Linked DNA regions of Homo sapiens: region 2 is linked to region 1. The links come from fine-mapping of genetic effects on gene expression. A gene starts in region 1. The other region holds a variant in brackets. All regions are shown on one strand. Distances are between the middles of the regions. Region 1 holds the start of SIMC1 (SUMO interacting motifs containing 1). Region 2 overlaps ARL10 (ARF like GTPase 10).

What was found.
Region 2: its variant is fine-mapped to the expression of SIMC1 in blood mononuclear cells (TOPMed, PIP 0.95).

The regions. Positions count from the first base shown.
Region 1 is chr5:176,232,360-176,245,123 of GRCh38, reverse strand. SIMC1 (SUMO interacting motifs containing 1) reads right to left here and starts at 6,700. Exons shown (of 10, transcript NM_001308195.2): 1 at 6,487-6,700. The coding sequence starts at 6,615. RefSeq lists silencers at 6,739-6,858, 6,909-7,028.
Region 2 is chr5:176,365,951-176,378,454 of GRCh38, reverse strand. ARL10 (ARF like GTPase 10) reads right to left here. Exons shown (of 4, transcript NM_173664.6): 2 at 11,874-12,075; 3 at 9,473-9,648; 4 at 1-6,733. The coding sequence ends at 6,560. MIR1271 (microRNA 1271) reads right to left here and starts at 10,509; the gene lies at 10,424-10,509. The variant G/A (reference allele first, on the strand shown) is at 5,094.

The DNA of each region.
Region 1 (12,764 bases):
GTAGTGGGGGGTTAGAACTTCAGCACATCTTTTTAGGAGATACAGTTCCACCTATAACAATCTTTAATATATAAGTAGATTTAACAAATGAGTAAGAAATGTTGGCCGGGTGCGGTGGCTCATGCCTGTAATCCTAGCACTTTGGGAGGCCGAGGTGGGTGGATCACTTGAGGTCAGGAGTTTGAGACCAGCCTGACCAACATGGTAAAACCCTGTCTCTACTAAAAATATAAAATTAGCTGGGCATGGTGGCACATGCCTGTAATCCCAGCTGCTTGGGAGTCTGAGGCAGGAGAATCACTTGAGCCAGGTAGGTGGAGGTTGCAGTGAGCTGAGATTGCGCCATTGCACTCCAGCCTGGGCAACAAGAGTGAAACTCCCTCTCAAAAAAAAAAAAAAAAAAAGGAAAAAAAAAAAGAAACATTATAACACTGCAACAGAAAAATGGGCAAAGGACAAGCATAGGGAATTTGCACACATACCCTATGTGTTTCCAATAAACATAAGCAAGATGTCTGGCTGTACTGCATGTGAGCACACTCCTTTATCTCCAACCTCACTAGCTGCTCTTCCTCCCTTGGGACACTATGGTGTTCCCTTGGGCTAGGTTCTGGATGTTCTTCCTCTTGTCACCTCAACCTAGATGATTTTATCCAGGTCAATGACTTCACTATAACCTATGCGCTAACAAGACTAAATTTGTATCTCTAGTCAGGACTTTTCTTCAGAGCTCTAAACTCAGTACAAATGTTATACTTGGCATCTCCAGTTGGCTATTCCACAGGCATCGTTAAGTTTTATACCTTCAAAACAGAACTCTTGAATCTTTCCTCTAACCCTGTTCCTCCCAAGTCTGCTTCATTTCAATGCATGACACCAACATGCATTCAGTTGCTCAAGCCAGAACTCAGGGCATCCTTCTTCATTCCTTCCTTTCCCTTGTTATCCACATCCAAGTTATCAGGACCTGTTGATTTTATTTACTAAATATCTACATCCCTCCACTCTCCCAGTCTGTACCACCACTCCAGTCCAAGCTACAGTTATTTCTGACCTGGACTACTACAGCCAACCTTCTAACTGATCTCCCTAATTTCACTCTTCCCCTCTTACAGTAGGGTGACTACACTTCTGCTTTGTTTGGGACAGTTCCAGTTTTCACCTGTTGCTTGACATCCTGGTCCAGTTAGCATCCCTTTTCATTTGCAAAAGTTTCCCAATTGGATGATAAATTATATGGTCTCCCTACCTTACCATCTTTTCTTTTCACAGTAGCTAAAGTCATCTCTAAAAAATGTAAATCAAGGCTAGGTGCAGTGGCTCACGCCTGTAATCCCAGCACTTTGGGAGGCCGAGGCGGGTGGATCATGAGGTCAGGAGATCTAGACCATCCTGGCCAACATGGTGAAACCCCGTCTCTACTAAAATACAAAAAATTAGTCAAGCGTGGTGGTGTGCTTGTAGTCCCGGCTACTCGGGAGGCTGAGGTGGGGGAAATTGCTTGAACCTGGGAAGTGGGGGTTGCAGTGAGCCGAGATCGCACCACTGCACTACAGCCTGGGCAACGCAACAGAGCAAGACTCCATCTCCAAAAAAAAAAAAAGTAAATCAAATCATGTCACTGTCCTGCTTAAACCTTCAAAGATTTCTTACTGTATTACAATAAAATCCAAATCCCTTATTGTGGTCTCCAAAGCCCTATAACCTAACCTACCTACTTCTCATCTCTTCTGACTCTGTCCATCAGTCGTTACATTGCAGCCTCACTGGCTTTCCATTCTTCCAGTAAGTCATGCTCATTCCCGCCTCCAAACTTTTGGTTTTGTTGTTCCCTTTGACAATGCCTTATTCATCTAGATCTTATAACTAATTTGTTGTCATTTTAGTCTCAGGTCAAATATTAACTCTTCAGAGAGGCCTTCTCTGAAAACACAATCAAATGTTCCCAATCCCACCAAAGTTACTATTATACTGTTCTCTTATTTGTTAGTTTGTTTACTGCCTATCTTTCCACAGTAGAATGTAGTTCCATTATCATCTTGTTCACCTCTGGTCCCCAGGGTTACAGCATATGCTCAATAAATATTTATTGAATAAATGAATCATAATAAAAAAATAAAAAATAATGACATCTTATGGAATCTGGCTATCAAACAGCAAAGATTAAAAGAACAAAAATACCGTATTTTTTCCCCTAACACTCTGTATTATCACCTGACATTACATTTATAGTGTTGTTTACTATCTGTGTCCCCTCAGTAAAATGAAATCTCCATGACGGCAGGGACTTGGTTTTCATAGATGTATTCCCAGCACCTCTAAGAGTGCCTGGTATATAATAAGTGTTCAATAAATATTTATGGAATAATGTAACAATACCTAGGGGTGACTAGGCAGCAGAGAAAGAGATATGATTGGCCATATACCACTGGTAAGAATATTAATGCACAATTTCTGTAGGAAATTTGGCAATACAGTTGATTCATGAACAACACAGGTTTGAACTGCATGGGTCCACTTACAAGAGAGTTTTTTTCAATAAATATATTGGAAAATTTTTTGGCGATTTATAACAATTTGGAAAACTCACAGATGAACTCCACAGCCTATAAAAATTGAAAAAAACTAAGAAAAAGATATGTCCTGAATGCATAAAATATATGTAGATACTAGCCTATTTTATCCATTTACTACCATAAAATCAACACAAATCTATTATACAAAGTTAAACTTTATCAAAATTTATGCACACAATCACTTACTGACCATAGATGGTGACATCTGCAGTTGACAGAAATGTAAAGATGCAATATTAACTCACAACTGCATATTTTTAAATTCATTATTTTTTTCTTTTTAATTTGTATCACAACTGCATAAAATTTACCATAGACTACACTGTACTACCGTGATAATAATGTCCTACTACCACAGACATCTGCTGCTGCTGTGGTGGGCTCAAGTGTTGTGAGGATCCACTTAAAACGCCACGTGACACTAATCAATTTCTGCACTACTTCCCAGTAAACTGTGTATCACGGTAACAAGTGTTCTCTCCTGGGTTTTTTTCCACATATACTTGTTTAATCATGTGTAGGGTAATATCGTAAACCTTGAATAACACCATGAAACCCATACAAAGTGCTTAGTGATGCTGGATGTGCTCTCAAGAAACAGAGAAAAGTCATGACATAAGAAAAGCTGAATCGCTTGAGATGTACCGTAGATAGAGGTCTGCAGCTGTGGTTGTCCCCTATTTCAGACAGATGATTTATCTTGTAAACAGACGATGTAAACCTATGGTATTGACAAATGCAGTATAGTACTGTAAATGTATTTTATCTTCCTTATGATCTTAACATTTTTCTCTTGCTTACTTTATCGTAAGAGTCCATATAACATACAAAACATGAGTTAACTGCTTATGTTACTGGTAAGGCTTCCAGTCAACAGTAGGCCACTGGTAGTTAAGTTTTCGAGGAGTCAAATGTTACATGTAAATTTTCAACTGCACGGGGGGGTTAGCAACCCTAATCCCCGTGTTCTTCAAGGGTTAGCTACATATAAAGTAGGGCACACCTTTTGACTCAGCAATCTAACTTCTAAGAGGAACTTAATAAACAAATGAACAAGAGTACAAAGATTATGAGGGAATTTTTCACTGGGTTCTTAGAGAAAATTTAGAAACGAAGGCATAATATCCATTAAGAGGAGGTCATAAAAACATGTATGGGGAGGACACATAGGTATGTATGTATGCACATGTGTGTATGCAAGTAAACATTTACATAGACATACATCAAAATGTTAACATTGGTTATCTTTGGATAGTGAGATTACGGGCAATTTTAATTTTCTTCTTTATACATTTATAAAAATTGTATAATTAGATCAACAAAATTAACCATCTGAAAATGTTCTGTTTTTATAAGTAAAAAAACGAAAAACAAAAAATCCCAAACGAAAAAGCCATGATAAACACAGAAACACACCTCATCGACTCAGTGAAGACTAAAGCCCAGGTTAAGAATCAAGAGTTCAGAAATGTCAACTTCAGCATTAGACATGGCTTTCTCAAGTTCAAGCAAGTTACTTCCCCTTAGTCAATATCTATTAAAAAAAAAAAAAAAAGATGTAAAAGTTGCTTCTTTTATTTCATTGCCTGTGAAGCTCAAGAGGGACAGGCCTGGGCTTAGAAACAACACAAAAAGTGGCAAAAGCTATCATTTATATGAGATCCTTTCCTTGCATTTGTCTCATTAAAAATTTAAAACCATCCTGCTAGGTAGGCATTAATGTTCTCAGGCTCAAAAGCTGAGAGTTGACAGAACTTTCCAAAACTCAAATAGTTGCTATGCTGGAGATATTGATTCAGAAGTCTCTCTGACCTCAGAGCCTTCAGGAAAAGCTACAAAGAAAAGGGCACTTTTAGACTTTATAACCTTGCAAGTCTCTCAATGCCTCTGATCTTTTACATGGTTATCATACCACTCTTATCTAATTTGCAAAAAAGATAAAACGAGAATAAGCTTGGAGCTTTTAGAGAGCTGGAATAAATATCTGGAGAAGCACGATTTAAATTGGGTACTGCTCTCTGGAACTTGCCCCTCATTTCGATTCAACTCAAAGGCTCAAGATCAAAATGCTTGCTTGAGTGGTCACAAGTGAGGGAAACAGTGAGAGACTACGCCCATGTACGTATGTGAAAGACCACAAAAGACTGAGATAAGCATGGCATCTGACCACTGAAGAAGGAAGCTGGACCAGAATGAGGGAAAATGGACAACACTTGGGAGGAAAGGAAGCAAGTGGGAAGGACAAAGTTAAACAGGTAGTGAGAGAAGAGGCTATAGGAATGAGGAGGAACTAGGAGGAAAGAAGTATTTTTTCCCTTCCACCTTTTTTCTCTCTCTACTCTTTTCCTTGATGATCTCAGTCACTATTAGGCCTTCAATACTCCTTTCTGTTTGCATGATTGCCAAATATCTCCATTCTTGCCTTTTCTCCAACTACTGAGCTGGCCACATCCATCTACATTTCCTATTAACACTGTAAATCCAACAGGTCCAACCTGAATTCAGCATCTCCTTCATCTCAAGCCTGCTGCTACTTTTATATGCACTTCTCTTATACTTATCAAACATCCATCTAAACCATTCTCTCTCCCCATATTCTTTCAATCGTTCCTTCATCCAACAAATACTTATTGTGCATCTATTATGTCCGATACATTCAGCCACAGCCCTAGATATATCCATTCACTCATGAAGTCGGGTCATTTCTATCTTGGAAATCTCTTCTCTCACTACCTCATGAGCTGCCTAACTCAACTAAATTTGTCTCTAAGACGTCCTGAGAAACCCTCTTGCTTGAAAAATAATATATATTAACTAGTTTTGCATGCTATTCATTCTATAGTGATCATCTAGCACTTGGCACTGTACCTCGGGCACAGAAGGGGTTCCCAATGGAGGTTTAGGGACTGTAAACCAGCTAGAAAGGGAACAGGGGCAGCAGAAGCTAGGAAACGTCTTGAACGAGTATTTGCATAGGAAGCATGGTAAACTGTATGATCTATACACATAACATCAGCTTGATAATCCTTGTGTTTCCGGGGGATGGCTCTGGGAGGCTGGGGAGATCGTTGGAAGCCTTCTGAGAGAAAGCTCCACCTCCCACCGCTTGAGTAGGTCCTCAACAACCACCTGATGATGTATCACCTTCTGAGGGGACCATGGATATTGTGTTCGCCGTTGTATCCCCGGCCCCTACAACATCTGGCTCATAGTAGGGATTCAATAAACATCGATGCAGGATTCTCGAAAGGCAGATAATTCACCACCTCATGAACGACAAAGACGAAGGGGTTCTGAGGGAAACAGAAATAGCGCGCGAGGTTTCCTTCCCTATTCCTTCAGGGCTTGGTACAGGGTAAGTGCTGAGGAAATAAATCGCCCTCCTGTACAACTCCAAAATCGGGCCCCTCGCTCTGCAGTCAGGCCCTGGAGCGCGGCCACCATCTGGCCCAGGCCCGCGCTTCCCTCCCTCCCAGCCTGGGCTCCTGTTACCTCCCTGCACACATCTGTGTCCACCACAGGCCGAAGAATTACGCGCTCCCGCTTTCCTGCATCGGCCCGGCCAGTACACCCGAGCCCCCACGTCCCGCCGAGGCTCCGAGGACGCCCGCGGCCCCGGCCTGAGACCCCAGCCCCTGCAGCAGGCGCGCCAGGAGCTCGTCCATGTGCTCGGCCGCTTTCCAGCCGCAGTCCTCTCGGGCTTCAGCGCTGAGCCTGGGAGGCCCGGCCTCCCCGGTCCCTGCCCTGGCCCCTGCCCCGGCCCGCCGCGCTCCCCGGGGCCCGAGAGGCCCGGAAGGAGGCAAGGCGGGAAGTGGCTGCAGCTGTGAGGCGCCAGGGGCGGGAAGCGGGCGGCGGGCCCAGCCGAGGGTCGCGAAGACGCGCGCCCCCAAACGAGGCGACGCTCACTCACCACGGTCCGGCGGGGCAGCGCGCCGGAGGTTCGCGACAGGGCCCGGCGCGGCCTCCGCGACCGGCCCGGGCGGGCGCCCCCGGAGCTCTCAGAGCCGCTGTCGTCCGAGATCACGATGAAATCCTCCATGGCTGCGGGCCCCGACCGAAGACCCAGGCAGTGGCGGCGGCGGCGACGACTTCGGTTCCTGCTTCTGAGGTGGCGGCGGCGGGGCGGCGGCAGCGGCGGCGGCTACAACCCGGGCCACCGCCACGCCGGCCCCGCCCCGAGCCCCGCCCCGCCGGGCCGCCAAGCCCCGCCCACCGGCGGCGGGCGGCTGGGGTCAGGGCCGGGGTCGCTGTGCTTCGTGGCGGCGCGGGTCCTCCGTTTCCCAGGAGGAAAAAAAAAAAGAAAAATGGAGTCGCAGCCGGCTTCGGCAGGTGTTGGGGCCAGGCGTGCGAGACGCCGAGGCCGCGGGGACTTCCCCACCTGCTTCCAACCGACGAAAGCGTGAAGTGAGGCGCGCCCAGTCCCACCCTGCCCAGGTGTGAAGCGCCTCCCGGACTGAGAGGGCCTTGACTGAGGGGCAGGGAGAGAGGTCCTGGCCCCCGAGTGACCGAGGGTAGGTGACCTGGCTTCTGGCCGAGCTAAGGGAGAGAGAGAGACCCCACTTTTTGGTGCACACGCCCATGTGTATCTGTAGGATAAATGCCTAAAAGCGGACTTATTGGGGCAAAGGCCATGTTTTTGTAGTTTTGATAAATGATGCCAAATTACCCTCCTAAATTGTACCAGTTTGCGATTTCACCAACAATATGTGTCTCTCAGGAGTTTAAACTGAGATTTAGAGCAGGGGTGTCCAATCTTTTGGCTTCCCCAGGAAGAAGAATTGTGTTGGGCCATACATAAAATACACTAATGATAGCTGATGACCTAAAGGAAAAGAGTTGCGAAAAAAAAAATCTCTTAATGTTAAACAGGGAGTTAAACAAGTTTGACGTAGACAGTTGTTCAGTTGGTATCAGGATCAGAAGCTGAAAAGGTGCACAAAAGAAGCCATGAAGTAGCAGAGGCCATGAATAATTAGATGTTGTGAATAAGCAGAAGTTATAAAGGTGAAAAAGGTTGTCCCCAGTAGAGGAATCGGTGGGTAGTTGGCTGGTTGGTTGGTTTTAGGGCAGGACCATTAAAATCAAGATAGGACCTATTGGTACACTAAATGTGGGGTATTGACAAAATCCTGCTGCTCAGGCTCCAGAAGTTTTGCAAAATATGTTAACAGATCCAAAGAATAATGTGTTTAATAGGAGGGGAATTTGTTCCTAAAGGAATGGTTATCAGGTGCTCTCCAAGCACTGTCTAATGCAGTGTTTTTCACACTTTGGTGAGCATCAGAATCCCCTAGAGTGTTTGTTAAGACAGATTGCGGCCGGGTGCGGCGGCTCACGCCTGTAATCTCAGCACTCTGGGAGGCCGAGGCGGGTGGATCACTTGAGGTCAGGAGTTCGAGACCAGCCTGGCCCACCTCGTCTCTACTAAAAATACAAAAATTAGCTGGGCATGGTGGCAGGCGCCTGTAATCCCAGCTACTTGGGAAGCTGAGGCAGGAGAATTGCTTGAATCTGGGAGGCGGAGGTTGCAGTGAGCCGAGATCGTGCCATTGCACTCCAGCCTGGGGGACAGAGCAAGGCTCCATCTCAAAAAAACAAAAACAAAAAACTCAACAAAATACAGATTGCTGGGTTGCTGGTATGGTTTGGATCTGCGTCCCCACCCAAGTCTCATGTTGAATTGTAATCCCCGATATTAGAGGTGGGGACTGGTGGGAGGTGATTGGATCATGGGGGTGGTTTCTTATGAATGGTTTAGTACCATCCCTTTGGTACGGTCCTTGTGATAACGAGTTCTCTTGAGATCTGGTTGTTTAAAAGTGTGTGGCACCTCCCACCTCGCCCCTTTCCCCATGTGATGTCCACTCCCCCTTCGCCTTCCGTCTTGATAGTAAGGTTCCTGAGACCTCCCCAGAAGCAGATGCTACTATGCTTCCTGTACTGCTTGCACAACCGTGAGCCAATTAAACCCCTTTTCTTTATAAATTACTCAGTCTCAGGTATTTCTTTATAGCAATTCGAGAATGAACTAACAATCACACATCAGATTTTCTGATTGAGAAAAAGAATTTTGGGGGTGGGGCCCTGAAATTTGCATTTCTAACAAGTGCCCAGGTGATGTGGATGCTGCTAGTCTGGGGACCACACTGTGAGAACCACTGGTCTGGTGGACGGGGAGTTTATGCCCAGCAGATTTCAGACATTCTGGTCCAATGGGTGAAGTCACCCTTGTGAAAGGATTCATTAAGTTGTCTTCATCTAAAGCTATTAAACATTTAGGGTTGTGATCTCTCACACCTGTAATCCCAGCACTTTGGGAGGCCGAGTTGGGAGAATAGCTTGAGGCCAGGAGTTTGAGACTAGCCTGGGCAATATAGCAAGACCCTGTCTCTACAAAAATAAAAACAAATTAGCCAGGTGTGGTAGCGCATGCCTGTGGTCCTAGCTACTCAGGCAGCTGAGGCAGGAGGATCCCTTGAGCCCAGGAATTGGAGGCTGCAGTGAGCTATGATACTGCCCCTACACTCCAGTCGGGGCAATAGGGTGAGACCCTGTCTCAATAAAACAAAACGAAACAAAATACACAACCATTTGGTGTGTCTGACTACCTGCTTGCTGAAACACTGTCTTCTGTAGGTTTCTGTGATGCTGTACTTCTCTCACCACTTTTTTTTAGTCTCCTTAGCTGACGCCTACTCCTCTACTCACTCCTTAAACTCTTGATGTCCCTTAGAGTCCTGACATTGGCCACCTTTTCACACGGGACCTCTTCCCTCTACAATCTCAACTATTCCCTGGCTTCAGTGATTGGTTTTATGCCAATGGCTGCCACGAGTTTATCTCAGCCCAGTCCTGTCCTTAAAACTCCAGTTGTATACATCCAAACATCTGCTGAAGCTCGTAGGCCTCTCAGGTTGAATATGTCTAAAGCCAAACTCACCTTTATGCTCCCCACACCCACAAAAAAGCCTGCTCTCTTTGTGTGTCTTATGGTGATGGCTCCACCAGCCAGCAATTGCTGAAGTGAAAAACCTGAGCATTGCACTTGATCTCTCCCCTTTCCTCAACAAGTCCTGTCTGTTTTACCTCCTAAACATCTCCTGCATCCCTCTACTTCTTTTGGCCTCTGCTGCTGATTCTAGCCAAGCTCTGGCCTACTCTACTGTGGCAAGACACAAGAGTGTTCAGATTGTATCTTTCTCATCAGCCATCCTGCCTGAAATACAGGAAACTCAGGACCCCTGGTGGTATAATACGAGAACAGCTTAAAAGTACCCTGCCCTTACTTGGCAACCCAGGTGGGATGAATACTGGCTGTGAAGTTGCCCTCCTTAAAACTATAAGTAATGTCACTTATGTTTCCTTGGCCATCCTGGATTTGTCTTGAAGTGTGCCGTTTACCCAAGACTTCCAAAGTGATTGTATGTTTTTCAGAAATTGGTGTATTTTTTTTAAGGTGACACTTTTTCATAGACTCACTCCCCCCAAACCATACATTAGTCTCATGTAAATTGAGAGGCTAATGTAGTATTTTATGCATCCAGTGAATACTGTATTTGGTGAGTACCTGCTAGATGCTAGGCTTATGTTAGGGGTCGGGGATAAAGCAGTGAGCAGGACAGCTATTACCTCTGTTCTCAAAGAGCTTAGCAGTTAAGGAGGTATCACTAGTTGGTTAATGAAGAAAAAATTGTTTCTTTTCTTTTAAAATAATTTTTAATGAAAAATTCATACATGAAAAAATGTGTGAAGATGCAAATCAAAACCACATTGAGATCCTACTTTATACCCATTTAGGATGGCTATTTTTTTAAAAAACAGAAAACAAATTTGGGAAGGGTATGGAGAAACTGGAACCACTGTGCGTTGCTGGTAGGGATGTAAAATGGAGAAGCAGCTGTGAAAAATAGTTTGGCAGTTTCTCAAAAAGTTAGATGTAGAATTACCGTATGATTCAACAATTCTACTCCTAGATATTTGCCCAGAAAAACTGAAAACGGGACTCAAACAGGTACTCGTCTGCAAATCTTCACAGCAGCATTATTTGTAATAGCCAAAAGGTAGAAACAGGTCTTCCTCAGCAGATGAATGGATTAAAAAAAGTGGTATATACATATAATAGAATAATATATTCAGCCATGGAAAGGAATTAAATTCTGATAACATGTCACATGGATGAACCTTGAGAATATTATGCTAAGTGAAATAAGCCAGATACAAAAGGACAAATATCATACAATTCCATGTTTATGAAGTACCTAGAATAGGCAAATTCACAGAGACAGATAATGGAATAATGGTTTTCAGGGGTTGGGGAAGGGGAGAATGGGGAGTTATTGTTTAATGGGTATTGAGTTTCAGCTTGGGATGACAAAGAGTTCTGGAAATGGATGGTGGTGATGGTTGCACAACTTTGTGAATGAACTAATGCCGCCGAATTGTATATTTAAAATGGTTATAATGGTAAATTTTGTGTTACGTCTATTTTACCAAAATAGAACACACTATGTGCATGGTTTTCTTTTATAAAATTTAAAAGCATTACAGACAAGGCTAAAGGCCCCTTTTGCCACTTCCCCCATCCAGATTCGCAATTCCCCCTTTTCAGTGCTGTTATGTTTATTCCTCTAGAGCTGCTTCTGTGTATTTACCTGAATTCATGTGTACTTACTAAAATTAAATACATTTTTAGCTTTATCGAATAACATATCTGCTCTGGTATAGAGTTGTTTATTTTTGAGACGAAGTCTCACTCTATCGCCCAGGCTGCAGTGCAGTGGCACGATCTTGGCTCACCACAACCTCCGCCTCCTGGGTTCAAGCGATTCTCATGCCTCAGCCTCCCGAGTAGCTGGGAGTAGCTGGGCATGCACGCCACCATGCCCGGCTAATTTTTGTATTTTTTTTTTTTTTTCAGTAGAGACGGGGTTTCACTGTGTTGACCAGTCTGGTCTTGAACTCCTGACCTTGTGATCCGCCTGCCTTGGCCTCCCAAAGTGCTGGGATTACAGGAGTGAGCCACCGCACGCAGCCTGCTATTGAGATTTGAAACCATCATTTGTGGTAAAAACATTCTAAATACAAAGCTTCCTGCCTTATTAATGGGGATTTTTTTTTTTGGTGGTTATTCATCTTTAAAATAGTTTTTCTTTTTTCTATTTTTCATTACATGGCAGGGTCAGTGCCTGCAGACCCGCTTTTGTTTATGCTAAAGCCAGCTAGCTCAAGTTTCTCCCTGCTCTAGGGAACATTCTGTCCCTTCTGTGGGATTCCAGGTCTAATCTTCCAGTTTCAGGGCACTCTTAGCTTTTCCACTGGATTGCTTCAGCAGGCGGCCTCTCAGTTTACATAACTTTATTTAAATCATTTTCTTATACTTTCTCCCTGCTTCCTTCGCATCTTCAAATTTGCTGTGATATCAAGGCCTTTGTAAAAATTTTGTTTCATTCCCTATGTTTGAAGAATCCTCATTTGAGAAAGTTAAAGCAATTGAGAATGGTTACGAAGCAGAATGTGTAACTCCATCATATTTTGATAACATCTTTCTAGATATCTCTAAATGGCCGATACTCACATGTGCAAAATTTTTACATAAATGGGATCAGACTATGCATATTGCATCACAGTTGGTTTTCTTAAATTAATATGTCCTTATGGTTTTCTGTGTCAGTGAACATGGATCTATAGTATCCATATTGTCTATTGGCTCATATTTTAAAATAGCGTATTTGCTTTATATAGAAAACCACAAAGAAGCAAGCAAAAAAAATATACCACGTTCTCCCATTCTTGGTATCCCTCATTGAACAGTTTGTAAAACTAAAAGAAACATCTTGTGAGTTCAGTAAATTCTTGCTACCAAAACTTACAAAATGAAAAGTGAAAGTTGAAAGCCACCCTCTCTTTCCTAGTTCTTCTTCCTAACACTAAATACCTTTATTAGTTTCTTGTAAATCCTTCAAAACATACTTACTTACTACACATACTTATCTGTTCTGACACACCCTAAAAATCACACTGTACAGTTATTTACTTTGCTTTTTGTAATTTATCATGGGCATTATTTCCTAACTGCAGGGTAAACATATCTGTCACTTTTTAACAGCTTACATTAAAAAGTCATTTGTTAGGCTGTGCCATAATTTATTTAATTGGTTTTCTATCATGGATATTTTGGTTGTTTCTAGG
Region 2 (12,504 bases), 130 kb before region 1:
AGTGGATGAACTTGCTACTATCCTGTTGCCATCACAAATTGGTATAAGTTCCAAGCTATCTTGAGTAAAGGTGAAAAATAAATAACAAATTCTTATAAGATTGAAGCCCATACATGGAAAGCTGAACCTGAATATCAAGGGACTGCCCTGGCAGATTTTCATGCTAAATCAGATAGTGCTGAAACAGTTAGGATGTGCAAATTGAATGAATGCCACTAGATTGATGACCTTTATGATGACCCATCTAACAGTGCAATGCACCTGATGTGGAAAACCAAAATTGTTATCTGACAGACGTAAACATAATGTTAAGCGTGAACTCATGGAGAGCCTAGATGGCCCCCTGGTCCTTCCTGAGCCCTTGAAACTTCTATTGTTAAAAGCTTTGCACTTGGCCAGGCACGGTGGCTCTTCCCTATAACCCCAGCACTTTGGGAAGCTGAGCTGGACTGACAGCTTGAGCCCAGGAGTTCAAGACCAGCCTGGGCAAGAGGATAAAACCCTCTCTATAAAAATTACAAAAAATTAGCTGGGGATGGTGGCGCACACTGGTAGTCCCAGCTACTCAGGAGACTGAGGTGGGAGGACTGCTTGATCTCTGGAGGTGGAGGTTGTAGTGAGCCATGATTGCACCACTGCATTCCAGCCTGGGTGACAGAGTGAGATCCTGTCTCAAAACAAAAAAACAAAAAACAACCTCTGCACCTCACAAATGAGCAAGATGATCCAGATTATAAAAAATACTGATAGTGTGACCACTGTAAAATGCTGAAATGGGTTATAACCAATATCTGGTTTGTCAAACCCATAATCCAGGGAAGATAATAAAAACTCCAAGTGGTGTATTTCCACCAACACCTGATGGACCATTTGAACGCTTACAGATGGACTTCATTCAACTGCCACCCTCAATTAAGTATCAGTATGTTCTTGTAATAGTTGGCATGTTTTCTGGTTGGATAGAAGCTTTCCTGTGTAGGAGAGCTGATGCTATGGCAGTAGCTAAGGAGTTATAAGAACATGTGTTTCCTTTATGGGGCATCTCTGGAAAAATCTCCAGTGACAGAGGAACTCATTTTATTGGACAAACTATGAAGCAGCTAAATAAAGTGTTAGAAACACAGTGGTACTACCATTGTCCCTTTCACCCTCAGTCTTCTGGAAAGGTCAAAAGGACAAATATTTTAAAACTAAAATTGGCAAAATTAACTGAATCGATTGGATTATCTTGGCCAAAGATACCACCATTGGCTTTGAATTTCATTTTTTTCTGATCTCTGAAGAAGAAAGCCAACCATTGCCTTTGGTCAGCAGATCAGATCCATTCCTACGACAGACACAGATTGACCCCTATGAAATAGTTACTAGAAAGCCTGTGCTCCTAACAGAACTTCACGTAGTTCCTACTCTCCTAAATGCTGATGCCACTAAATACTACAAAGCTGTAATGCATTATGTCACACTGTATTTTGACAAAATAAAATAAACTTTCTGTGACCCACAGAGGACCATCAAAGCCTTCACAATCTGTAACCTGAGACTAGGTCTTCTGGAGATGGTATCAGAGAAAAAGTGCCCTTAAACCTCACAGAAAGAGACAATACCAAGTTCTTCTATTACCCACACTGTGGTAAAACTTCAGGGCTTCGAACCTTGGGTCCACATCTCACAACTCAAAAGGACCTCTCCAGACTCCTGGAACTACACACCTGTTGGAGACTTTAAGGTAAAGCTAACCAGGGAAGTTTTTCCCCAGAAGCAGATCACGTCCTAGACATGAACAGCTTTCCCTAGATGTGGATGAAGACTTCACTGCAATCGCAAAAATCTTATCTTTCTCCCTCTCTTTCCTATTTTCTGTCCGCAAATCCTTTCCCTTTCTTTATGGGAAAATCCGTGGGACCATAATCTGGGGCCGGCTTTAGCAAAGGCTAATGCTCTAGCAAGAAACTGGAGTTCCTGTTGGGTTTGTGACTTAACGCTCAAATCAGGAAACGATTCCATTAATGCCAGTATCTCTCCATTTTCCCAATAAGTCACCCTGAAACCCCAAAGGAAGAGTGGAATGCTAACCTTTTTTTTTTTTTTTTTTTGAGACGGAGTCTCGCTCTGTCTCCCAGGCTAGAGTGCAGTGACGTGATCTCAGCTCACTGCAACCTCTGCCTCCCAAGTTTAAGTGATTCTCATGCCTCAGCCTCCCTAGTAGGTGGGACTACAGGCGCATGCCGTCACACCCAGCTGATTTTTTGTATTTTATAGTAGAGACAGGGTTTCACTGTGTTAGCCAGGATTGTCTCGATCTCCTGACCTCGTGATCCGTCCACCTCAGCCTCCCAGAGTGCTGGGATTACAGGCGTGAGCCACCGCATCCAGCAGCTAACCTTGATATTCTAAACACCACTACTGCTTGCTTCCCTACACTCATTGGAAGTGGTACCCTGACCTTTTCAATTAATAAGTGCCAATATGGAAAAAAACCTGTCCAGGTAATGCCTATGCAAGGAACACTGCCTACACCTATGCTTTCAGGCACCACATATTCAGGACCTGGGAACTACCTATGTGGCTCCAAGCGATTGCTTATATAATGTCACTGGGTTAAATCCAGTAGGGTTCCTTCTCACTGGCTGTGGTTATGCACCCTTACAGCATGCTATAAAGGGACCACATAAAAATAAGTTGCCCACTGGACCTTGTTTAGGAGCTGTGCAGACTTATGGGGGAACATAAGTGACCCCTGCTCAAATGCTACCAGGTGGCCCCCACTTTCCAGCTTCAGAGGGTACATATTAGGTCTGTGGATAATTTGCTTACTCTGTCCTGACTTCAGATCTTGCTGTTTCACCTGATTCATGCTCACCTTGCAAACAGCTTTCCCTGAAAGTCCCCATAATCAGAGGTCAAAGACTAAAATGAATACCAACCTTGAAACAGATGATTAGTTAGTTTCCCCTGAGCAAATATTCCAGTGGAGTTCCTGCGGACTCACTTTTGGCGGCAGTGAGGTGCCAACTGTATGGAAATTAAAGTTAATGCTAAATTGAAAAGAATTTTGTAGCACAGAGATTCGCACAGGTAGAAGCCACAGATGGATGGATGGATGGATGGATGGGTGGATGATGGATGGATGGATGGATGGATGGATGGATGGATGGATGGATGGATGGGTGGATGGATGGATGGGTGGATGGGTGGATGGATGGAAGGATGGATGGATGGATGGATGGATGGGTGGATGGGTGGATGAGTGGATGGATGGATGGATGGGTGGATGGGTGGGTGGGTGGGTGGATGGATGGGTGGGTGGGTGGATGGGTGGACGGGTGGACGGGTGGACGGATGGAGGGATGGATGGATGGATGGATGGATGGATGGATGAGGCCACCTGTGTTCAACAAAAACACGTAATGGAACTTCATGCAGCTTTAGATTTCCTTTGCCCAGCTAGGAGCTTGTGTATGGTGCTGAACAAAACTGAACGCTGTGCTTATCTTTCCTGATTCTACTACTATGGAGAGCTTCAAAAGGCGGTGGTGGCTGCCGCTTCTGTAGATACTGCCACCAAACACATCAAGGATATTTCTCAGGGAAAAGGAACACATAATGTGTTTGCAGGAGCAGCTAGTGGTTGGTTTGCAGGCATCCTGAATGGTAGACAGCAAGCTTAGCTGTTCAAGGTTTTCTAATCTTCATGTTTCTTTTAGTGGGTATCCCAATCACCATGACTTGTGTTACCAAAAGCTAACTAAAAAATCAAACACTTTACAATTAAGGTACTTCATAGTGAACTATGTCCTTAATTGCCATTATACCCTGAACAGGCTATGAGCAGCAGAGCTTGCACGCTGTTGAACTATTTTTATCGTCTGAACTTGAGTTGTTTGATTCCAATCAGTTTGGTTTGTGGAGACTCATATTAAGGGATGCATTCCAGTTTCTTGGTATTACACTCCTGATAGCCATCCTAAGGTCCCCACTGATGTGTTGTAGTCTTAAGTACACCAATGCAGTCATCCTTTGTACCTCAAATGGTCTCATTACGGTTAGAGTAACAGAAACATGAAGACATACAGAATCCGCTAACTGATTTAACATTGTAAACTGTGAGTTCCATAATGAGGTCAAATAGTGACAGAAGGTAGTGTCAGTGCGTGGGATTTTGGTCAATCTCTCAAAATTAAGGGGCTGAGCAAAATGAGGGACACTGTGAAGCTGAATTAAGTCTGGCCTAAAGCTGCCTCTGTACACAGTGAATTGTAACTTAACGTGTAAACAACTCGTAACCTAACCTAAAAGTATGTTCTTCTAACAAGTAGCCGAATTTTAGCCAATCACAGCAGCCAAACCTTCAGTCAATCGTCGGCTGAAGGCTGCTAAAACATGTTCAGGTAAGGCAAATGCCAGACTGCAGCCAATCAGGCAACCTAAGTTATTTTCGTTTCTCTGGCTATAAATGTAGCCTACACACATTGTGGGGCTGAGCATTCTGAACTGCTTTTGGTGCTAAGTACTAACCAGTTCACGAATCTTTTTTCTGCTCAAAAACAGAACATACTTTTTAAACTTCGTTAAAGTTGTCTAAGGTTTTTTTGCCTTCAAGCCCTGAAGAACAAGGAGTTCATAGAACAAAGGAGAAAAGTCTCTTAGCCTTCCAATGACAAAATGAAAAGCTGCCAGCAAAGTTTCAAAGGCTACTCTGAAACCCAAGTCATTCTTAAAATTTTACATAAAAGCCCATAAATCACTTCTTACTGCAGAAAGTGAACCAGCACTTTCAAGAACAGTGATTCTTCAAATGGCGCCCAAGGGCACAGCAGCCACTATTCCAAAGATCACACTCGCTTCTGGACTTCAGAATTTCCCACCCTCCTTGCGGCTTGTTGAACTGTTTTTATCATAGTTCCTCTTCTTACACTGGTCACGGTGTGGAACTGAGGCATGCTGGGTAAATGTCAAATGAAATGAAGGCACACAATCTCTATTCTCAACTAGACAGCAAATTGAGGTGCACAGCTCCTCTTAAAAAAAAAATCCATTTGTGGTTGTTGATTTAGTGGTCCCTAACAGACAACAGGCTCCTCTTTGCCTGTACC[G/A]ATAATAAGTGTCAGTACAGAGCCAGTCCTTCAATTGGGCTGATCGCCAAGCACTGGAGAACTATGGAATGTGCACTGATGAGAACTCCAGAAATTCAGTCCAACTTGGCTTTCACTGGGGAAAAATTGGGTCCAGAAAGGCTGAGTGATGTACCCAAGGCCATCCCGTTGGCTGGTCTGCTATTCCTGTCCTTAGGATCACATAATACAATTTTTTTCCATCTTTTTACCTAGATTCACATAAGGGAAATCCTCTCCCAGAGTCATTTCTTATCTACCCAGAAGGAATTTGCACCCTTTCAACATCCTGGGCCAAGTGGTGGCGTTTCAGTTCATGTGAATCCATGTAAAGTACTATGATATCGACGACAGCCTCAAAGCCAGGTGGGAGGAGGAACCCACAACTTTGTCTCCACTGACATCTGTATGTTATCTCATTGTCATTCATGATTCCAGCTATTTTCCTAAGTTCCAAATTTTCTATGACTGTCATCTGGGGTTTTGAAAACAGCACCTAGAAACAGAGCCTAGAACTCTGGCCTGTTCTGCTTATAAATTAATAAATAAAATGCAGTTCTGAGGTCAACACCTAGCTCCAGTTGACTGTCGTCCCAGGGACACAGGCTCCTTCCTTCCCCTGACTTCTGTAAACATGGGCACTGGCACAGTTAGTACGAGAGCAGCAGCTTGTCTCCAGATTAGAGGGGAAAAACCCAGCCTTCACTTTTTCTGTTTGGTGGGTGAATATCAGTTATTCTGTAGTCAAGAGAGGCTGGCAGGCCAGGCCTGGGCTCAGGGAAAGGCAGGGAGGTCTTCAGAAAGCTCCTTGCTAGGATGGCCAGGTTCATCCTAGCACTTCACACTCCCATGGCTGGGAAAGGCATCTCCGAATTAGGAAACCACCTCCCTTTAAAAATAATGGCCCTGGGGTCAGAGAGGCAGAGATTGCACAAGGCCACAAGTCACTTAGGTGGAGCTGGGGCTGGACAATGCAGGACAGGAACAAAGGCTTGCTGTGTCACCACTCAGAAGCTGCCCACATGAGAAGGGCATGACGTCACCAGACTGTTTCTGGACTGGGAGACCTTGAGGCTCTAGGAGTATTTCTGACACCTACACTGGTTCCTCAGGTACCGGGACCTGTAGTGGAGGATTGAGCCCACTGAGCATCTCACTGTACAGGTAAGAGAAGGGAAAGCTGGATCCACATTCCAGCCTGGAATGAGCCAGACACTATCCTCCCCACCCTCTGTCTCACCCACCTCCCTGCTTCGGCTTCACGGCCACCTCACCAGGAAGGCTTCTGCATGGTTCTTGGCCTTGCCCAGGCCCTGCTCTTGAAAGGCAAAGGAGGGGAAAAGGGAAATGCTGCCATGTGGCTCTTGCCCCAGGCCCAGTCTGGCAATGAAGCAGCAGCAGTACAACTATGGTCTTGACAGGCAGGTGGCAAGCAGGAGAGCTCCAGCCTAGGAGAGGAGCTCCAAGAGCAGTTTCCAGATGTGCACGGTGCCAGGCTCTTCAAAGGTGGGTCCTGCAGGGGCAATGCTGGCTGCCAAGAGGAAAACCTCCCGCTGGTTATCGATAGCCTGTAGACCCAGCTCCCGCTGCAGCTCCCCCATACTCATGGCCTCGCTCAGGTCCTGGGTGAGACACAGAAGTCCGAACACAGCTGGCAGCATTTCCTAACACACTGACACCCTTGTCGTTCATGAAACACACTGTTCTTAGGCTATCCCCGGGAATATCAGGAAACACACTGTTCTTAGGCTATCCCCGGGAATATCAGGAAACACACTGTTCTTAGGCTATCCCCGGGAATATCAGGAAACACACTGTTCTTAGGCTATCCCCGGGAATATCAGGCCCCAAGTTCCCAGAAGTAGCCTCTGGACCCCTTGGCCTAAACTCAATGCTCTCTCCCTCACCCTGGGCTCTCCTTTGTACCAACCTCTTTTCATTGCATCATTAGCCACTGTTTTGAGACGGAGTTTTGCTCTGTCACCCAGGCTGGAGTGCAGTGGCACGATCTTGGCTCACTGCAACCTCCACCTCCTGTGGTGGAATCCTGAAGCGATTCTCCTGCTTCAGCCTCCCTAGTAGCTGGGACTACAGGTGTGAGCCACCACGCCTGGCTAATTTTTGTATTTTTAGTAGAGACGGGGTTTCGCCGTGCTGGCCAGGCTGGTCTCGAACTCCTGACCTCAGGTGATCCACCTGCCTCAGCCTCCCAAAGTGCTGGGATTACAGGCATGAGCCACCACGCCCGGCTAGAAATAGAGCACTTCCTATGTGTCAAGCATTGTAGATAGGCCCGTATATACTTCAGCTTATTTAATGTTCACAGTCCACACTTAATTGATGAGAAAAGTAGCTCAGGGAGGTGACATCATTGAGCTAAGGTAACAGTGATAGGTGGTAGAGCCAGGTGCCAACTCAGGTTGGTTTGATAACCAAGTTTCCTAAACTCAGTCATGGAGAGATGATACAGTAGGATCACTTCCAGACAAGACCTCTAGAAACTAGCTGGAGGAAAACAAGGGACCACTACACAGCATGACTGGTGATGGTATGTTGTAATTTCAACCCTGGCCCAAGATTTAAATGATTCTTCCTGGAGCAATTCAGAGACTGCTGGGACCTTAGATGTTGTCTCCTACAGGTTCAAAACTGCTATAAATTAGTTTATAAATAGGACATGATGTGATTCCTGGTCCAAACTGGGGCAATCTGAGGCTCAGAGCGGGCACTATTAATAGTGCCAGAACAAGAGTCGTAAATGGGGACTGTCTTGGACAGAAAAGGACATACAGTCACCCTATTTATAAATAATTGTCAAATGTTTCCTAATAGGTTGGGGAATCTGAGGTCGAAGACATACAGTCTCTCTCCATGTCAAGTTGGAAACAGGTCCCACAGCTCTCAGAGGCACCTGAGTTTAGGCCACAGGAAATATGATCAGACTCTGTACTCTGGCAGTTTCACCTGATATTGAGAATGGGACCCAAGGTCTGTGATACTGAGGGTTCCTGGGCCCAAGGCGACTCTCTGGCACCCAAGAGAGGTACAGCACACTGGTTAAGAGGAGGAACTTTGAAGAATATCTGAGTTCAAGTTTGGGCTTTGCCACATGCCAGCTGCAACTCCAGGTATTTAGTGTAACAGCAGGGCCTATCACGAGGTATTTAGAGGGAAGTGAGGTCATGATTGTCAGGTGCTTACCACATGTATGGCACACCGTAAGCACACAATAAATGTTAGCTGTTATTTAACCTGTTCTACCTCTCATCAGTTACCAGCTTCAGCTCTCTGATCTAGAGCCAGAATTTGCAAGGGCATAGCAGAGTGGAAAAGGTACAGCTTTAGCATTACACGTCCCAATTCCACTATTTTTTTTTTTTTTTTTGAGATAGGGTCTCGCTGTGTCACCCAGGCTGGAGTGCAGTAGTGTGATCACAGCTCACTGCAGCCTCGACCTCCTGGGTTCAAGTGATCTTTCTGCCTCAGCCTCTAAAGTAGCTGGCACTATAGGCAGGCACCACCACACCCAGTTAATTTTTTGCATTTTTTTTGTAGAGACGGAGTTTCACCATGTTGCCCAGGCTGGTCTCGAACTCCTGGAATCAAATGATCCACCTTCCTTGGCCTCTCAAAGTGTTGGAGGTAGAGGTTTGAGCCACCACGCCTGGACCAATTCTATTACTCTCAAGATGTACAACCTTGGAAAGATTATAAGACTAGCCTGTCCCATCTATAAAATGGGAATAGCATCCCATACTTTATAGGGTCAACAGAAGCATAAGAAGAAATGTTATTCAAAACCACACCTGGGGGCCAGACACAGTGACTCATGCCTATAATTCCAGCACTTTGGGAAGCTGAGGCGGGCGGATCACTTGAGGTCAGGAGTTCAAGACCAGCCTGGCCAACATGGCAAAACTCCACCTCTACTAAAAATACAAAAATTGGCTGGGTGTGGTGGCACATACCTGTAATCCCAGCTACTCGGAAGGCTGAGGCACAAGAATTGCTTGAACCCGGGAGGTGGAGGTTGCAGTGAGCCGAGATCACACCACTGCATTCCAGCCTGGGCGACAGAACAAGACTCTGTCTCAAAAAAAAAACAAAAACAAAACACCATGCCTGGCATATAGGAGGCACTTAATAATTATTTTTCTCATCTCTCCAGAGTACGAGATGATAGGGAGGCAAAGAGGAAGGAAGACAGAGGCAGGGATCAGGACAGGGCATAGGTAGAAGAGGTGGGGGCAGCATCTCAGCCACCCTCTCCAGGCCATGGGCCCAGGCAGCGCTCCTTGCCCCTGCCCAAGCATCTCTGAGTGGATGTCACCTGGACCGAGCTGCCCTCTCACAGCCCTCACCTGCTTGTTGGCCACCACGACGACAGGCAGGTCAGGGTCCTTGTCCAGCAGCTTGTGCAGCTCCTGTCGGGCCCAGGGCAGCCGCAGTCGGTCAGCCGAGTCCACCACAAACACCAGCACATCCACCTCGCTCACAAACTCCTTCCAGTAGAAGCGCAGGTTCTGGCTGCCCCCAACTGAGGAGAGGCCAGGGGCCAGCTCAGAGCCTCCCGGGCCCCCGCTCACTGCCCACAGCCCCCACCCCACCCCGGGCCCCCGCTCACTGCCCACAGCCCCCACCCCACCCCGGGCCCCCGCTCACTGCCCACAGCCCCCACCCCACCCTGCTTCTAGCTTAGTGAGCTTCCACCAGCCGGGGGCAAGGAAAAGACCGCAGTTTCCGCAGCTACTCAGACTGGATTTAGCTCTAGCTCTGATAGGCGGGTCTCTTGGGGCAAGTCCCTAGCTTTAAGCACCAGTCTCCTCACTGAACTTTCCTAACGGGTTGTTGCAGTAAAACCCACAGGTACCACGTGCGATGTACCTTTCACGGGACTGACACACAGGTGCTCAGTAAATGGAAGTCTTCAGTTCTCTCCCCTGGGTTGTCTGGCTTTGCCTCTTGCTAATTCCTAGCTTTCTCCTACAGGTTCAAAACTGTCAGTGATGGCTGTGACAGGAGCCAGGAGTCCTATTGTCTAGAAAACTCAGGACCCCCTGCCCTGCCTATACACAGCCATTCTCCATTCAGTTTCCCCCATCCCCTTCTTTTCCCTTGGAAATGTCATATTTCATCCTATGAACACATGGTTGCCAACACAGTCCCCCAGCCTGGATCACCTTTCTTTTCCTCTCTGCTCCTCTGCACAGTCCCATTGGTCACCCCGCACCCTAGTGTTTCTGGCTATGTTTCTGACACTTGAGGATTCTAAGCTGTGAGAGTCAGAGGCACTTACCTCTGAATCCCCACAAAGCCCTCAGCACAATGCCTGGCACATAGCAGGCACTCAACAAATATTTACTGAGTGCTTGCTAGGTGCCAAGCACTGATCTGGGTGCTGCAGATACAGAGGTGAGCAAGGCAAGCAGGGGCCCTGCACCAAGGAGCTCCCTCCCTAACTGGGAAGGACATGGCAATGACATCAACACATTTCAAAAAGGAAAGAAATAAAACAGAAAAAAGGGAAAGTGGCTGAGGTGGAACAGGGGTTGGCCCTGGATTGGGTGGTCTGGGTAGGTCTCATCAAGGAAGTGGCATGTGAGCTGAGTGGGATGATGAGAAGGAGCCAGCCATGGGAAGAGGCAGAGGAAAGCATTCCAGACAGAGGGGAGAGCATGCTGGAAGTGTCTGGGAAACAGAAAGAAGGCTGGGGTGCTGAGGCACTGCAAGAAGGAGAAAGAGATGGCTGTGAGGCTGGCTGGGGCGGGCCACATGGGGCCAAAGACCACAGTGAGGGGGTGGGGAGCCCCCCAAGGGCTTTAAGCAAGAGTGACATTACCTGACATGGGTTTTCTCTAGCTGACACTAGGGACAGAAGGGGAAGCAGGAAGACCAAAGAGGAGGCTGTGGTGCTGAGAGGAAAGATGACACTAGTTTGGGCCAGACAGGCAATAGTGGAGGAGGGTGTGCCACTGCCCACTGCCATTCCAGCCTGGGCGACAGAGACCCTGTCTCCAAAAAAAAAAAACTAGAATGGTGGGGTGCGATGGCTTACGCCTGTAATCCCAGCACTTTGGGAGGTCGAAGCGGGCAGATCACTTGAGGTCAGGAGTTCAAGACTAGCCTGACCAATGTGGTGAAACCCCCGTCTCTACTAAAAATACAAAAATTAGCCGGGCGTGGTGGCGGGCGCCTGTAATCCCAGCTGCTCAGGAGGCTGAAGCTGGAGAATCGCTTGAACCCGGGAGGAGGAGGTTGCAGTGAGCCGAGACAGCGCCATTGCACTCCAGCCTGGGTGTCACAGTGAGACTCCATCTCAAAAAAAAAAAAAAAAAAAAAAAGACTAGAAAGGTGGGTGACCTTGGATTCATGATACTACTGCTGGAACTCATTTTCCTCTGGAGATAACGAGGGTAGTGACCGATTCTAGTTTTATGTAATTGTTTAGGGGAGTTTTCTTAAGCAATGCCCGTCAAGTGCTTGGCATATGAACCCTTAGCTGTTAGTATCTCTGTGTTAGGCCTATCGACTTTGGTAGGGGTGATGGGGCAGGCGGTGCAGCTGGAGAGGCCCGATCACGAAGGGCCCTAAATGTCAGAGCACAGAGCGTGGGCTGAATCCTGTGCCCCGGAGAGCGGTGGGAAGGATTCGTAGAGGGGAATGTGCTGCTTAGACATGCATTTTGGAAGCCCCCTTCCCTGCAGAGAATCCAGGACTGGTCCAGTAGAGGAGACGGGGAGATGGGGTAGGGTGTCCGCTCACTTTCTAGCAGGTCCACCTCAAAGTCCTTGGTGGGCAGACGCACGGAGTTGAAGCCCCAGGTGGGGATGTGGCCTTCCAGCGGTGGCTTCCCCGACAACACGCGCAGGAACGTGCTCTTGCCTGCGCCATCCAGCCCCAGCACCAGCACCTCGCGCTGTTCCAGCTCCTCCAGCGCCGGCTCCTCGTCCTCCTCGTCCTCGGGCTGCGGGGAAGCGGAGGTAAGGTTGCGGCTGGCGGCCTCCCGAAGGACCTTTCCCGAGGGAAGACCGAAGGCACCAGAGGGCCCAGGCCCGCCTTCCACCCGTCCTGGGACAGGCAGGCATGGTCTGGATGAGTGGGACGAACGCCGCCTTTGCAGTCCTGAATTCCAAACCCTTGGCGAATTCCTTAAACGCTCGCGCGCCCCGCTTCCTCCACCGGTCTCGGAGTCCCGACCGCAGGCGGGAGGGGATGGGGTTTCTCCCGACATCCCCACCCCCGGGCGGGGTGCACTGCGCAGGCGCCGGAGGGGCGCGAGCCGACCCGGCTGGGCCCCGGGATGCTCCCGAGCCGCGCCCTCCAAACTCCGGCCCCCGCTGGAACACCCGAGCCTCATGGCGTGGAGCGACGGCGTGGCGCCAAGGCGCCGCAC